2 linked regions of the Homo sapiens genome follow. The protein of the gene in region 1 purifies or fractionates together with the protein of each later gene. This does not show direct contact. Each region holds a gene or a part of one and is shown in the gene's direction. Other genes may lie near its edges.

Region 1 (5,265 bases):
GGCTGGCGCCTCCGCTCTCTCCAGGCTGGACAATCTAGTTTATCGTCTGCGTTGCCAGCGCCCTCACTCCCTGGCCTGCTTGGGGAGGGCTCACAGGCATGGGGGTCACATTCTGGCCTCTGGATAAAGGAGAAATGCTCTTTCTGCACCCCAGGCCCACTGGGTCTTTAACCCAGTGGCAGCCAAGGCAGTGTCTTCTCAGAACCCACAGGGCTGGGCACCCTTGAATCAGCATGACTTGCCGAGTTCAATCCTGTTGTTTGTGTCTGCTGCCTGGGGTCTGCCTTGTGTCCTGGCCTGGGAAGCCCTAGCCCATGAGGGGTGCCAGGAACAGAGCAAAGCTAGAGCGGCCCCTGTGTGGTGGCCTCTTCTAGAGTCTACCATCATCCCCCAGGACTTAGGAGCACCTGATGTCTCCTCCCAGCTCCTGAGCCCACTTCCACCCCAACTCTGAGGCCCAGCCCACAATTTGCCTCTTCCCTACTGCCTAATAATTGTTACAATTGCCTCAGATGGGCGAGGGCCACTGTGGGTTTTGTGTCCACCGGTGCAACCCCTCCCTCCCTGCCCTTTCCAGGCCGCTCCTTTGAACCTGTAGGTACTCGGCCCCGAGTGGACTCCATGAGCTCTGTGGAGGAGGATGACTACGACACATTGACCGACATCGATTCCGACAAGAATGTCATTCGCACCAAGGTCTGACCCGTGGGCCTGGCCTGGTCAGGCGTTTCCTGAGAAAGGGACATTCTGCGTTCCCGCCCCAGCATGTTCCCACTGACGTGGCATTTAGGGAAGCAGAAGGAAGGGGCTCAGCTGGGGCAGGGCAGATGCCGGGGAAACTAACCTGACCTCCAACCCCTTCCGGCCTGATTGGCCAAACCCTCTTGGTCTAAGCGGCCGCAGCAGTGGGATGTCCTTGAACCCTGCCCCCCTGAATTCGGCCCTGTGTGAGGGAGGCCCCTCTTGTCCACCTCTAACCTGGGGGAGGGGGCTTCTCCCAAGTAGCAGTAAGTGGGGCTGATTCCAGCTTCTCCCCAGCAATACCTCTATGTGGCTGACCTGGCACGGAAGGACAAGCGTGTTCTGCGGAAAAAGTACCAGATCTACTTCTGGTGAGTGGGCTGAGTGTCTGGGGCTCTGCTGTTGGTGGGTGTGTGGCAGCCTTGGGTGCCACCCACCTCACTGCCGCCCTCCTGCTCCGCAGGAACATTGCCACCATTGCTGTCTTCTATGCCCTTCCTGTGGTGCAGCTGGTGATCACCTACCAGACGGTGAGAGGGCAGGGCAGGTTCACCTTTCCGACAGCCTAGGACACCGCCCCAAAGTGCAGAGCCTCCCAGCCTGGGGCCCTGGTGTTCCATCACAGGACCTGGGTTCAGATCCCAGCTCTGCCTTCCCAGCCGAGTGACCCAGGGCAAATCACATAACCCCCCCAACCCTGAGTGTCAGTTTCTTCATCTGCAAAATGGGAGCAGCCCGCACTAAAGATAGCCCCTCCCTGGTTTCTTGTGCGGATTATGAAACCAAAGTCCTGGGGCTTTGTAAGCATCAGTTTCCCTTCCCTTTTCTCTGTCCCGTGGGGCAAGAACTTCCATCACGGTCATGCCTCAGGGTTTTCAGCCACGCCTAATGAGAGGGGACAGCGACTGTGCTGCATGGCATCCATGTTCTCAGAAGGAACACGTGCCTGCGGTGCTGTGTATTCCCACCTGCTAGCTGTGGTGGCACTTGCTGTTTTTTGCCAAAGGGGCCCGGATGGCGGGGCGTGGGCTGAGTTGGGCGTGACGACAGACCCACTCCCTGTCCCTGCTCCTGCTACAGGTGGTGAATGTCACAGGGAATCAGGACATCTGCTACTACAACTTCCTCTGCGCCCACCCACTGGGCAATCTCAGGTGGGGGTCATGCTGGGAGGCCCCTTGTCCAGGCCAAGGGTGAAATGGGGCAGGGCCTGGGGCTTTGCAATGCCCACGTGGGCTAGGGAAGAGGCCTGGGTGTGAGTCCCAAGCAGTCTGCCTTGTGTTGCCCCTTCTAGCGCCTTCAACAACATCCTCAGCAACCTGGGGTACATCCTGCTGGGGCTGCTTTTCCTGCTCATCATCCTGCAACGGGAGATCAACCACAACCGGGCCCTGCTGCGCAATGACCTCTGTGCCCTGGTAAGGGAGCACCTGCCTGCCTGCCGCAGCCTCAGCTCCAGCACAGACCTCAAGCCTTGGCTCCAGGACACCCTTTTGGGCAGGCCTGGCCCTGCCTTCCCCAGCTCTCCCCTCCCCAGTTCTGTCTGGCCCACCCTATCCAGCCCAGCCTGCCCCACCCTGCCCTGCCCTCCCTTGCCAGCCTGCCCAGGCCAGCCCACCCCTGCACACCCACACTCGACACATACCCCACCCCTTTTCCTCTTCCACTCCTCTTAGGGTCCCTCTTTTGGGTCCCTTCTTCCCTTCCTGCCTCACTTCCTCCCTCCCTTCCCTTCTCTCTCTCCCCAACAGGAATGTGGGATCCCCAAACACTTTGGGCTTTTCTACGCCATGGGCACAGCCCTGATGATGGAGGGGCTGCTCAGTGCTTGCTATCATGTGTGCCCCAACTATACCAATTTCCAGTTTGGTGAGTGGGGCGTCCTTCTTTTCTGGCTCAACCTACAGCAGGGACCTGCCTGAGTCCTTCACTATCCCCAAGTCACCCACAGGGATCGCTAAGACACCCCTGTAGGAAACTCCAAGGCTGGCGTGCCTGGGTGTGCACACATCCTAGCCTATGGAACATGGGCACCTAGATGCTGCTTCATTCATCTGTCAAGCTATTCCTATGTAAAGGCATGTGCCGCAGTGAAGAAAACAGTATAATTAAGAAGGGGTCCCTGGCCGGGTGCAGTGGCTCACGCCTGTAATCCCAGCACTTTGGGAGGCCGAGGCAGATGGATCACGAGGTCAGGAGCTCCAGACCATCCTGGCTAACATGGTGAAACCCCGTCTCTACTAAAAATACAAAAAATTAGCCGGGCACAGTGGCAGGCGCCTGTAGTCCCAGCTGCTCGGGAGGCTGAGGCAGGAGAATGGCATGAATCCGGGAGGCAGAGTTTGCAATGAGCCAAGATCACGCCCTGCGCTCTAGCCTGGGCAACAGAGCGAGACTCCGTCTCAAAAAAAAAAAAAAGAAGGGGGCCCTGGCTGGGCACTGTGGCTCATGCCTGTAATCCTAGCACTTTGGGAGGCTGAGGCGGGGGGATCGCCCAAGGTGGGGAGTTTGAGATCAGCCGGGCCAACATGGTGAAACCCCATCTCTACTAAAAATGCAAAGATTAGCTGGGTGTGGTGGTGCATGCCTGTAATCTCAGCTACTCAGGGGGCTGAGGCAGGAGAATTGCTTGAGCCCAGGAAGCGGAGGTTGCAGTGAGCCGAGATCCCACCATTGCACGCCAGCCTGGGCGACAGAGTGAGACTCCGTCTCCAAAAAAATAAAAGGGAGTCCCTGATCTCAGGGTGCTCACAGACTAAGACACAGACCAAGTTGTCCCTGTTTTCAGGAGATGTCAGACTCTGGGTGACAGCCAGTGGGGTGGCAGTGTGGTGTGGCAGGTACAACTAAGGAACTGAAGTTCAAGTGCCACCCTGCCACCAGCTCACACCATGGCCGTGGTGGGGCACCAGGGCTCTCTCTTCCTCTGGGATTGTTGGGGCCAGGAGTTCTCTGCTGGGGCTTGGTGGCCATTTCTGCAGCTCCCTTCCGTGTCCCTCATCCTAGACACATCGTTCATGTACATGATCGCCGGACTCTGCATGCTGAAGCTCTACCAGAAGCGGCACCCGGACATCAACGCCAGCGCCTACAGTGCCTACGCCTGCCTGGCCATTGTCATCTTCTTCTCTGTGCTGGGCGTGGTGAGGGCCTGACCTGCTCTGCTCAGCCTGTATGATAGGAAAGGTGCACGTGCGTTCAGACACGTAGTGCACACCCTCCGCCACCTCCTGCATGAGAGATTCCTGCTCCTTCCCTGAGATGCCTTCCTGGGCCCCTCTCAGAGTCCCAGCCTGGCTGAGCAGCCAGCCCCAGGAAGGGTGGGCCATCCGAGCCACTTCCCTCTCCACCCTCACCGCTGCCCTTGGTGGCCTCCCGACAGGTCTTTGGCAAAGGGAACACGGCGTTCTGGATCGTCTTCTCCATCATTCACATCATCGCCACCCTGCTCCTCAGCACGCAGCTCTATTACATGGGCCGGTGGAAACTGGGTAAGGGCACGCCCGGGGCAGGGCCTGGGGGAGGGGTCTGGGGGGCCTTGGGAACCCGGACGCACGGGAGACGCTCAGGTTCTGTCTTGGGGGCCCTGGAGTCACTGGGTGAGGAATTAGATCAGGCCTGGGCTCCTCAGCTGGCACATCCCAGGGGTCCAGCAAAGGAGGGTGCCCCGTGCCTGTCAGCACCACTCCCTTCTCTTCGCAGACTCGGGGATCTTCCGCCGCATCCTCCACGTGCTCTACACAGACTGCATCCGGCAGTGCAGCGGGCCGCTCTACGTGGTACCTGCCTGGTTCCCCTGCTCCATTCTCCACATCTCCTTTCTTCCCTCTGATGGGGGAGTGGGGCTGGGCTGAGGACCCAGGGGAGAGTGGGGACCAGCTGGCTGGGCCTTCTTCCACCACCCTCCCTGCCCCTGCCCTCAGTCCCTGTGTCCCTGCTTCCCTCCAGGACCGCATGGTGCTGCTGGTCATGGGCAACGTCATCAACTGGTCGCTGTGAGTATGGTCAGCAGTAGTGGCCTGGTTGGGTGGACAGCTGGGGACTCGGTCAGCCACTGGCTGCCTTGGGGGCTAAGGACAACTTCCAAATGTTGGGCATAAGACATGGGGGCTAAGAGAGATCTTGGCCTCTCTTCTCTCTCTTGGCATCTGGGCTTCTAGAATCTTCTGTGGGCTTCTGAACACAGCCCAACATCATAATAAAACATGCCTAGGCAGGGCAGGAAGAGCACTTCCTTGCCCTTGGGCTTCCTGCTTCACCACCCTTCATCCCTCTTGCCAGGGCTGCCTATGGGCTTATCATGCGCCCCAATGATTTCGCTTCCTACTTGTTGGCCATTGGCATCTGCAACCTGCTCCTTTACTTCGCCTTCTACATCATCATGAAGGTGAGTGGGGCTGGCCAAGCCCCCTCTGTCAGCTGCTCTGCTATCTGGGGAGAGAGATGGGCCCGGCAGCATTGAGGGGCAGTGAGAAGTTTTCTGTCCCATCTTTGCTGGTTGCGGAGGGGAGAGGCTAAAGCCTC
Region 2 (5,265 bases), on another chromosome or scaffold:
ACGGGAGTCTTGCTCTGTTTCCCAGGCTGGAGTGCCATGGCATGATCTCGCCGCACTGCAACCTCCGCCACCCGGTTTCGAGCAATTCTTCCTGCCTCAGCCTCCTGAGTAGCTGGGATTACAGGCGCCTGGCACCAAGCCCCGCTAATTTTTGTATTTTTGGTGGAGACGGGGTTTCACCATGTTGGCCAGGCTGGTCTCAAACTCCTGACCTCAGGTGATCTGCCCACCTCGGCCTCCCAAAGTGCTGGGATTATAGACGTGAGCCACCATGCCCGGCCTACAAACACATTATTATTAGACAACATGATAGCAATTTGAAGGAAAAGGTAGTGCTTGAGCTGGGACTTAATAAGGAAAAGTTCAATAGAAAGAAAAAAGAAAAATGGGCTGGAGAAAACAGCAAGGGCACAAAACTTCTGGTGGGGGGTGGCAGAGTAGACAATGTGCTGGAAGAGAGGAGCTCATCTGAGGTTGGAGTGGTCATGTGCTGTCTGTTATTCAGTGTTACCATTCTTGCGGGGAGTCTGGGGCCGGAGCTGGTGACTGTGTGTGAAGTTACAGTACTCTGTACTCTGTTGCTATGCCCACTGCCACTACCTTTGAACTTTTCTTTTCCCACTGGGAAGGTGGACAGCCTCTTCTATTTCCTGGGATCAAAGCCTGTCCTGAGTACAAGGTGCTTGAAAACTACCATTGACACTTCAACAGCTGCAAAATAACACTGGTTGCAAGAATCCAACAATGTCTCTGCTGTGTGGTCCTTTAACTGTTTATTTTTATGCTGGGACCTGGCTTAGAGTGTTCATTCTTGCATAGATCCAGGTTGCTTTGTGGTAGCAATTCAGGTTAATAAAATGCTCCTCTGCCCAATACCATCTGTAGATGTTAATAAATGTTCTCAAGGAATTTTTAGGATGCTGAAGATGATGATCAAGATCTCAAAATCATTTCATTGATTAAGTACCTACTATGTGTCAGGCATTGGATACATAGGACAAAGAAGGAAGTGGGCATAGTGCATATCTTCATTGAATTGGTAATCCAATGGGAGATCAGACAAGTAAATACAGTGTGATAAGGGCTGTGATGGGCGGAGGTACAGAGTATTGTGGGAACACATGGAAGAAACACCTCACCCATACTAGGAGATCAGGGAAGGCTTTCTGGAAAAGGCTGCAGAAACCTGATAGCCTAGTGAAGAGGAGTAGGGAGGAAGTAATCAAGGCAGAGGAAACAAAGTGTTGGAGAGGCTGAACACAAGGGAGAGAATGGCTTGTTAGAGAAACTGGCAGAAGTTACTGGCCTGGAACAGAGAGAGCCTGAAGAGTTTTTACCAAGGGACCCATGGCAAGATGGAAAAGGGATTAAAGGAGGTAAAGACTGGCAGCAGAAAGACCAGTTGTAATAATCATGGTGTAAAAGACAAATAACCAATGTCCTCAGTACACTGACTTTCAAAATTCACTTATCTCTCAATCTGCCAAGCCAGACATCCTGGCCTCCCTAGAACCAGATACAATTACAGTCACATGTCTCTTCATGGGGATACCTTCTGAGAAATGTATTGTTAGGCAATTTCATTGTTGTGTAAATATCAGAGTGTACTTACACAAAGCTAGATGGTGTGTGTGTGTATATGCATGTATGTATGTATTCATATGGAAAACCAAATTCCCAACATCATTACTGAATATCAGTCCTTTCCCCTACTTCAGGAGTCCCCGGGCCCCAGGCTGCAGACTGGTACCTGTCGAGAGCTGTTAGGAACTGGGCTTCACGGCAGTAGGTGAGCGGCGGGAGAGTGAGCATTACTGCCTGAGCTCCGTTTTGTGTCAGATCAGCAGCAGCATTAGATTCTCATAGTAGCATGAATCCTATCATGAACTGCTCATGTGAGGGATCTAGGTTGTGCACACCTTGTGAGAATCTAATGCCTGATGATCCAACCAAGATGAAACAGTTTCATCCCAAAACCATCTCTCCCCCCAACCCCCATTTCTGGAAAAATTGTCTTCTACAAAACTTGTCTGTGGTGCCAAAAAGGTTGAGGACCGCTGCCCTACTTGATCTGTAATGCCAGTGATTAGTGCTCTGTATCAGGTTTCTATGTACTTCATTATAAAATGGAGTCTCACTCTGTCACCCAGGCTGGAGTGCAGTGGTGTGATCTTGGCTCACTGCAACCTCCTCCTCCTGGGTTCAAGCAATTTTTCTGCCTCAGCCTCCCAAGTAGCTGGGATTAAAGCGTGAACCACTATGCCTGGCTAATTTTTGTATTTTTAGTAGAGATGGGGTTTCACCATATTCGCCAGGCTGGTCTCAAACTCCGCCTCAAATGATCCACCCACCTCGGCCTCCCAAAGTGCTGGGATTATAGGCATGAGCCACCATCTCGTATCTTATGGGACCACCATCATATATGCAGTCCATTGTTGACCAAAACACCATTATGCAGTTCATGACTCTTTTTAAAAAGTAAAGAAAAATCCTATTTGAAAGAACTATTACATGCAAAAAAATCTATTGTTCCTATTACTCATGCAGATGGCCCTTTAAAGCCATGGTCCCCAGGTATGACTGTTACGTTCCTTGCCAGAAATAAACCTGTGCAAGGTGTACTCTCTAGTCTCTGTATGTGAAGTAAGAGTCATTCTGTGCTTGATGCTGTGTTTTGTGCATTCTAGATAGGAACTGAAGAGCTCAAAATGACATGAGGTTGAGCTGTTTCTCATTTAGGTTAGCTTGCTGTGATTCCAGTAGCTTTTCTTCCTGCTTATCCAAGCCATTCATGAAAGCAAAACCCACACAAGATACAGGAGCTCAGAATAAAAGGAGTTCAAGTGGGCGTGTTATCTCCCACTTCCCCTACTAAGGTACAAAGTTATTTTTCTTTTTTTCACTTCCTTGGTAATTTTTTTTTTTTTTTTTTTTTTTTACAAAGACTGGTTACCAGGCATTTCATACTTAAGCCCTGAAGTCTGGGAATGTGATTTCTAACAATTTTATGTTTGGAGTTCTTAGACTTGTGTTTACCTGCTTACATAAGAGATAATTTTGCTTACAAAACTAACTACAGATGTGATCATTGCTGTAGTATTCATTGTATTTTATTAAAAAATATTATGAACCTACTCTGTGCAGTACTAGGTATGTGGAAGGGTTTCGGAAAAAAAAAAAAAAAAAAAAAGACCTGGTCCCTGCCTTCAGAAACTTAATTTAAAACAGAGCAGAATCAAAGTACTAATGCCACCTTTCTTCATTGTGTCATCCAAGGAAGACACAAGTAATCAGTCACAGCACTGTTTCCTACTGAAACCAGAATCAGCCTCAGAATCCTCCTCAACACAGCATTCCAGACAACCCATGAATAGATAATTCATCTTCCTGGTTGGGTGTGGTGGCTCACACCTGTAATCCCAGCACTTTGGGAGGCCAAGGTGGGCAGATCACAAGGTCAGGAGTTCGAGACCAGCCTGGCCAATATGGTGAAACCCTGTCTCTACTAAAAATACAAAAATTAGGTGGGTGTGGTGGTGGATGCCTGTAGTCCCAGCTACTCGGGAGGCTGAGGCAGGAGAATCGCTTGAACCAAGGAGGCAGAGGTTGCAGTGAGCTGAGATCGCGCCACTGCACTCTAGCCTGGGTGACAGAGTGAGGCTCTGTCTCAAAAATAAATAAATAAATAAAAATATTAAAAATTCATCTTCCATCCTTAATTTAAAAAAATACATGCATTCCCAAAACTCTTGGGTACTTGCCTTGATTTTTATTGCTTGGTCTTTTGCTAGTTTTTAAAGAAATAACATGATTTCTTTCTTTAAAAAAGACAAAGCAATATAAATATGGAAACCCAAGAACCTCTCAAGAAATGAAAATATGGTCATGTGGTTTTTCAAGAAGTTGAAACATTCAGTTCATGCACATAATTAGAGAAGCCCATTCCCATTACTTGCCACTAGAAACACTGTTTTTCTTGGTTACTTCCAGGATGATTGTCCTTGTCCTTTATTATTTGTATAAACTAGTTCCGTGCTATAAAGCTGTCAGCTGATAGTGAATAATAACCACATTTTCAAGTTTCCTGGCACCGGGGCTTCATTCATGGCTGCTCGGGTCACCTGCTTTGGTAGAGATCGTATGTCTTCCTGGTGCTGACTTATTCAGCATCACCATCATTGATTATTTCATGGCCACCTGAGTCTTGAGCTGTCTTCTCAATCCACATGCTTTCCATAGGACTGCATCAAAGGCCAGAGTTTCAGCTATATATATTGATAAATCCCAAGTGTGTATAGTAAGACTCCTCCTAAACGCTAGACCCTTAGTTTCAACTGTTCATGGACACTTCCACCAGAGTGATTGGAGCTAACGTAAACAGCTAACAAACACTTGTGGCCAGAGGATGTGCTAAGAGCGTTACAATCATTACTTAATTTAACCTTTCCAACAACCCTTAGAAGTTTTCATCCCTATTATACAGATGGGAAATACACAAGGCTTAAGGAATCAACCATTAGTAAGTGTTAGAACTAAGTCTGGAACATAAGACTATCCAAAGTTTAACGGTATTTAATGGTATACACAGACCTTTCAATTTTGGCTTATACAAAATAAGAGTCATCCCACTCCTTGACCTCCAAATTTCAGTCTTAACCTTTAATGAGTCCACAACAAATGCCATCCTGCTGTCATACCCTCCTTCAAGGTCCACTAAGTAACCACTATGGACTTGGTGCAGTCTGTCATAATTTCTTACCTAGAATGCAATTCTTACTCATTCTTTCCCTCTTCCCTTGCACTAGGAGAGAAAAGCTGTATATTCCCCTTTTAGTTTATTTTCTACTACATTTATATTGGATAAAAAGATAGGACCTGAATGAGAAAACTTTAGTTAGGAGCAGGCATAGGGTTTTTCTCATTTACTCTTTTCATTTGCATCTCTAGAATAATGTCTTTTGTCTTCTTGTTTTCTAGGAATGTTTACCCTTGCGGAAGTTGCATCACTTAATGACATTCAGCCAACTTACCGAATCCTGAAACCATGGTGGGATGTGTTTATGGATTACCTAGCTGTTGTTATGTTAATGGTAGCCATCTTTGCAGGAACCATGCAACTTACCAAAGATCAGGTGGTCTGTTTGCCAGTATTGCCATCTCCTGTAAATTCAAAGGCACATACACCACCAGGAAATGCCGAGGTCACCACCAACATCCCAAAGATGGAAGCAGCCACCAACCAAGACCAAGATGGGCGGACAACAA

Evidence for each region. The genes of interacting proteins can lie anywhere in the genome.
Region 2: the proteins of SIDT2 (region 1) and LRRC8D purify together in Homo sapiens (affinity purification with mass spectrometry; one large-scale study listed by BioGRID and IntAct). This does not show direct contact.

Annotation. Positions count from the first base shown.
Region 1 is NC_000011.10:117,188,131-117,193,395, forward strand, and holds part of SIDT2 (SID1 transmembrane family member 2 precursor), read left to right. Parts: intron 1-577; coding exon 578-696; intron 697-1,038; coding exon 1,039-1,112; intron 1,113-1,204; coding exon 1,205-1,271; intron 1,272-1,821; coding exon 1,822-1,895; intron 1,896-2,035; coding exon 2,036-2,159; intron 2,160-2,492; coding exon 2,493-2,610; intron 2,611-3,747; coding exon 3,748-3,884; intron 3,885-4,123; coding exon 4,124-4,232; intron 4,233-4,443; coding exon 4,444-4,520; intron 4,521-4,689; coding exon 4,690-4,736; intron 4,737-5,022; coding exon 5,023-5,128; intron 5,129-5,265.
Region 2 is NC_000001.11:89,928,090-89,933,354, forward strand, and holds part of LRRC8D (volume-regulated anion channel subunit LRRC8D), read left to right. Parts: intron 1-1,718; exon of another isoform or gene 1,719-1,789; intron 1,790-4,977; 5' UTR 4,978-4,979; coding exon 4,980-5,265. UniProt on the Homo sapiens protein: Non-essential component of the volume-regulated anion channel (VRAC, also named VSOAC channel), an anion channel required to maintain a constant cell volume in response to extracellular or intracellular osmotic changes.